Linked DNA regions of Homo sapiens: region 2 is linked to region 1. The links come from fine-mapping of genetic effects on gene expression. A gene starts in region 1. The other region holds a variant in brackets. All regions are shown on one strand. Distances are from middle to middle. Region 1 holds the start of DDX3X (DEAD-box helicase 3 X-linked). Region 2 has its middle 54 kb from the start of DDX3X.

What was found. PIP is the estimated chance that this variant, and not a neighbour inherited with it, causes the effect.
Region 2: its variant is the best candidate, but not a certain one, in a credible set for the expression of DDX3X in T cells (TOPMed, PIP 0.69).

What each region holds. Positions count from the first base shown.
Region 1 is chrX:41,332,343-41,335,244 of GRCh38, forward strand. DDX3X (DEAD-box helicase 3 X-linked) reads left to right here and starts at 1,820. Exons shown (of 17, transcript NM_001356.5): 1 at 1,820-1,955. The coding sequence starts at 1,911. RefSeq lists a silencer at 641-1,130 and an enhancer at 1,221-1,450.
Region 2 is chrX:41,386,574-41,389,475 of GRCh38, forward strand. No RefSeq gene overlaps it. Among named protein-coding and RNA genes, the nearest start is that of DDX3X, 54 kb to the left of the region's middle. The variant T/C (reference allele first, on the strand shown) is at 1,684.

The DNA of each region.
Region 1 (2,902 bases):
TTTGTAGGTTTACATAAACAATTTAGGTTTTGTTATTTCAGTATAGGTAAAGGGGGCGTTAGAAAATACTCGTTATGAAAAGGAGTTGGGTCTTTCACAGGGTTATGGAATGTAGCAGACTCCTTTTATAGATGAGCAAATTGAGACCCAAAGCCGTTAAACAACTTGCCCCCGACAGTGTGATATTCTCTCCCTATCTCGTTCGAATTTCCGTCTCGATTTTAAAAATTGAGAAGGGAGAGAAGTTATGTGTATAGTAAATTATGTGATGAGCACGAACTATTTGAATTCTGGCAGCAGAAGACCTTTTGTGGGGGTGGTGGAAACCACTGCGTTTTATTTAATTTCGTAGGGCTGAGGGTCAGAAGAGAGGGGAAAGCGGTCATAAGAAACTACGGATGTGCGGGCGCCGGCTCAAAGCCGGGAATCCACTAGTAAACACCTTCTTCTATTTAAGGGCCTGCGGCACCGAAGCCGGGACTTGGGGTGGCCTGCCTAGGAGGGAACCACAGGAAGAGGTTCCACCGACGGTAGAAACCCGGTTCCTCCTGTTCCTCATCCACCGCAGCGGCCTGAGAGTCACCCCGAGCCCAGGCCGGTAACCCCGCTGCAGCCCCTCCGGCAGGCCCAGGTTGCACCGGCTACAAACATTCCCGACACCCTTGGGCCCTAGAAGAGCCGTTCGCCACCCGCGGGGTCCCCGCAACGCCGGTGGTCACCGGCCCTAAGCCGCTGGGCGCCCCGCGGGAGGAAACTAGGGGCAAATGTAGCCCGCATTCCTGCGGAGAGCCGGGGTCCCGGGAGGGCGCGCCAGCGGCGGTTCCGGATCAGCGCGTGTCTGTCTCATTGTTCCCTCACCGCGGGGGGCGGGGGCGGAGGCGCGCGCGCACACGTCGGGGGGTTGGCCAGGAGGGGCCATTGTGTGTTTCTAGGCGGCGCCCCCGCTGCCTAGGCAACCGCGCAGGAAGGTGTCCGGCCACCTGCGCGCGCCGCCGGCTCCCCTCCATTTCCCCCCGACTCCCGCCCCGGTCACCATCCTACCCTCCTCCCTCCTCCTTTCCCCTTACTCCGCTCCCCTCTTTTCCCTCCCTCTCCTCCCCTTCCCTCTGTTCTCTCCTCCTCTTCCCCTCCCCTCCCCCGTCCGGAGCACTCTATATTCAAGCCACCGTTTCCTGCTTCACAAAATGGCCACCGCACGCGACACCTACGGTCACGTGGCCTGCCGCCCTCTCAGTTTCGGGAATCTGCCTAGCTCCCACTAAGGGGAGGCTACCCGCGGAAGAGCGAGGGCAGATTAGACCGGAGAAATCCCACCACATCTCCAAGCCCGGGAACTGAGAGAGGAAGAAGAGTGAAGGCCAGTGTTAGGAAAAAAAAAACAAAAACAAAAAAAACGAAAAACGAAAGCTGAGTGCATAGAGTTGGAAAGGGGAGCGAATGCGTAAGGTTGGAAAGGGGGGCGAAGAGGCCTAGGTTAACATTTTCAGGCGTCTTAGCCGGTGGAAAGCGGGAGACGCAAGTTCTCGCGAGATCTCGAGAACTCCGAGGCTGAGACTAGGGTTTTAGCGGAGAGCACGGGAAGTGTAGCTCGAGAGAACTGGGACAGCATTTCGCACCCTAAGCTCCAAGGCAGGACTGCTAGGGGCGACAGGACTAAGTAGGAAATCCCTTGAGCTTAGACCTGAGGGAGCGCGCAGTAGCCGGGCAGAAGTCGCCGCGACAGGGAATTGCGGTGTGAGAGGGAGGGCACACGTTGTACGTGCTGACGTAGCCGGCTTTCCAGCGGGTATATTAGATCCGTGGCCGCGCGGTGCGCTCCAGAGCCGCAGTTCTCCCGTGAGAGGGCCTTCGCGGTGGAACAAACACTCGCTTAGCAGCGGAAGACTCCGAGTTCTCGGTACTCTTCAGGGATGAGTCATGTGGCAGTGGAAAATGCGCTCGGGCTGGACCAGCAGGTGAGCCGCAAGAACCCCACCGGGCTGGCTGCTGCGTGAATTCCTCCCCTGACCTAACCTGGCTAATGGCGCAGCGCTAACCGGCACCCTTACTTTTCATTTTCTGGGTGCCCCGGGCTGGCGGGTGTGAGTGCCCCGGGGCTATAGAGGGATAGGAATGTTGGTTGGGGCTGTCGCCCGGGCCCGGTCTCGGCCCGCTGTATTGTCCCCGGGACGAGCACAATGGCGGCTTTTGTGTGTGCGTGCGCAGGCGGGCGGAGGGGGAGGAAGTGCGCGCGCTCTCGCGGGGACGCGCATGCGCGAATCCCGACTGATTAGTGACCTGGGGGGGTTTGCGGGAGTGCGCAGCGCGGCGGGACGCGACTGGAGGCCCTTTTGGCTTGGAGGGCTTCGGCCTTCACGGCTGGCGCAGCCTGGATTCCCGTCCGGAGGACCTGGCGGCACCCGGTGTTTGCGTGCCTGCGAGCAAGGGGTAGAACGCGGCCCAGGAATGTGGGAGGGGGCGGCCTTCGCTCGGGGTAATGGCGGCGGCCTCTTTTGTGTGGTGCTGGGCGGCGCTGTGGCTCACCTCCGGGAGACGGCGGGTCTCGGGCGGGCGAAGGCCTGGAAAGGAGGATGGAATGGGTTTCTTGTTTTTTCCCGGGTTCCTTCCGCTGGCTTTTTCGCTTCAGCCCAGGTTCCGCAGGGTCCGGGGGCCCTGCGCCGCAGCCGGGGAGGCTGCGTTTCCGGAGTGGAAAGTTTTGTGACGCAGAAGATTGGGGAGGAGTGGGGGAGGGGTGGGGGCGGGGAGGGGAGGCAGGAATTGGCCGCTGCGCGCTGGGCCCTGGAGATAGAGGTTGGACGTGGCGGGGAGGTTAGGGAGCCAGCGAGGCCCTTTCTCCTCCTTGCTTGCCCCAGATTGTCCCTGTGTGGTATGTTAGCCGGGAGTCCCGCGTTGTTTTTCTGGG
Region 2 (2,902 bases), 54 kb after region 1:
TGGAGTTCCATTTTTCTTTCACGCTAGGTATCTACCCAAGAGAAATGAGACGTATGTACGCATAAAACTCCTACACGAGTGTTCACAGCAGCATTATTCATAATAGCCCCAAATTGGAAACAACCCAATTGTCTACTGAGAAAAGAAAAATAGCTCAGAGCAGGCCCAGAGAGACATGAATAGGGACTTCAGTCATCATCTCCCCAGCCCCCACCGCATGCCTGGGGACAATTGTTTAAAGTCACTTTGTTCCTGACTAGCTGGCTCACCTATTATCTTCATGTACCTGGGATTTGTGATATAAAGACAAATTTTTACTTTAAAAATCCACTTGTAGGCCTGGCACGGTGGCTCACGCATGTAATCCCAGCAGTTTGGGAAGCCTAGGCAGGTGGATCACTTGAGGCCAGGACTTCCAGACTAACCTGGCCAAACATGGCAAAACCCCGTCTCTACTCAAAATACAAAAGTTAAAAACAAACAAACAAACAAAAGTTAGCTGGGCATGGTGGCGTGTGCCTGTAATCGCAGCTACTCAGGAGGCTGAGTCAGGAGAATCTCTTGAACCTGGGAGGGAGGTGGAGGTTGCAGTGAGCTGAGATCACGCCACTGCACTCCAGCCTGGGCAACAGAGCAAAACTTGGTCTCCAAAAAAAAAAAAAAAATCCACTTGTAACTGCTGCTAGGCAGAATGTTATGTTCAGGGCAACCTGAATCTGTGCTCTCAGATAACAATTTTAAAGCTTGGCCCAAATAAACTCTCTACGTATATTCATTTTGCCCCAGCTTCTTCCTTTTAGGTTGACACCATCAAGTGACAAATGGATAAACAAAATGTGGTATATCCAAACAGTAGAATATGATTCATCAGTGAAAAGGAATGAAGTATTGATACATGCCATAACACTGGCGAAACTTGAAGACCTGTTAGTTAAGTTTATGGATACAAAGGTCACATATTATATATTGTATGATTCCATTTATATAAAATGTCCAGAATAGGCCGGGCACAGTGGCTCACACCTATAATCCCAGCTACTTGGGAGGCTGAGGCAGGAGAATCACTTGAACCCGGGAGGTGGAGGTTGCAGTGAGCCGAGACGGTGCCATTGCACTCCAGCCTGGGAGACAGAGCTAGACTCCGTCTCAAAAAACTAAAAAGATAAATAAAAAATAAAAAACAAAAATCCAGGAGCATTGCGGCAGGGGATATGGAGCCAAAGGCCATTGCGACGACATGAAGAAAGTAGAGTTTGAGAAGGAATAGCCTGGCATTTATGGAAAAATGTCTCAGAAGCAATGACTAGCAATAAAAGGCTGATTGAGAAACTGGGGCAGGAATCCAGAAATGAAATGATGAGGGTCTAGGCCAAAGCCTTGACAGGGAACTGGAGAGAGAAGATCCAATTTACAGTCTAAAGAGGAAACTGGCACCAGATTACATGGTCACATTAGTGAACCAAACTAGGGCCCACTTGCCTGGAGCAGCAAAGCCAAACACTGACATCGGGATAGCAGCGAAAGTGAGACATTTATTGCAGGACACCAAGCCAGGAGAATTGGCCAGCTAATGCTTGAGACTGGAACTCCATGATGACTTACAGGTAAGGGTTTTTAAAGGCAAAGAGGTAGAGGTTACAGGCAAAGTCATAAATCAAGGCAGGACATCCTCAAGTCCCGGGA[T/C]TGTGGGGGTGGGGGCACAGGTCGTAGGTGGATTCAGAGATTTTCTTTTTTTTTTTTTTTTTTTTTTTTTTGATACAGAGTCTCCGTCTGTTGCCCAGGCTAGAGTGCAGTGGCACGTTCTCGGCTCACTGCAACCTCCGCCTCCCGGGTTCAAGTGATTCTCGTGCCTCAACCTCCCGAGCAGCTGGGATTACAGGTCCGCGCCATCATGCCTGTCTAATTTTTGTATTTTTAGTAGAGACGGAGGTTTCACCATGTTGGCCAGGCTGGTCTCGAACTCCTGACCTCAAGTGATCTGCCCGCCTCGGCCTCCCAAAGTGCTAGGATTATAGGCGTGAGCCACCGGGCCCAGCCAGGATTCAGAGATTTTCTGATTAACGATTAGTTAAGGAGGTGAAGCTTTGTCTAAAACTTTGAGATCAACAGAAAGGAATGTTCACTCTTGCTTGTGGACATGACCTCCTCTGGGCCCCTCAAAAAGAAATTTAGAGCAGAGGTCAGAGTTCAACCTTCAGTTCCCCGTTATCTGAGGTTTACATGCCAGCTGATCCTTGTGATGGGGGCCCGAGGTTCCGAAAAACAACTCAGGGACATATATCAAGATGTTATCTTCAATTTCTTTTTTCTTTTTCTTTTCTTTTCCTTTATTTTATTTTATTTTTTATTTTATTTTTTGTGACTAGATCTTGCTCTATTACCCAGGCTGGAGTGCAGTGGCGCAATTTCGGGTCACTGCTATCTCCACCTCCGGGGCTCAAGCCATCCTCCCACCTCAGCCTCCTGAGTAGCTGGCACTACAGGCATGGGCTATGTGATCTTTCTGTGCTTTAATCTTCCCAGTTGTAAAAATTAAAGAACAGTAGTGACTACCTCCTAGGTTGTCCTGACAGTAACCGAGAAAATCCATGTGGAACAGCAGAAACACTAAGAAGAATGCAAATGTGCTTTCCTCTCTTGTATTTCCATACAGACGACCTTTTCCCTGGGCAGCCTGTAGCCATCTGCTTGGGAGCAGGGAAGGTTTTTCCAAAGTTCTTGAGCAAATTAAATATAAATCCTAAAGATCTCAGATCACAATGTCTCTTCCATGAGAGAAAGAAGATACCCCTATGCCAACCTCAGTCAAGCCGTGAGACTTGTTGCCTTTTAGTAGGAGGATATGACCTGCAGAAACTGAAAGCCCAAAAGTCGTCCCTTCCGGTTCCCAGGACTTGTAGGC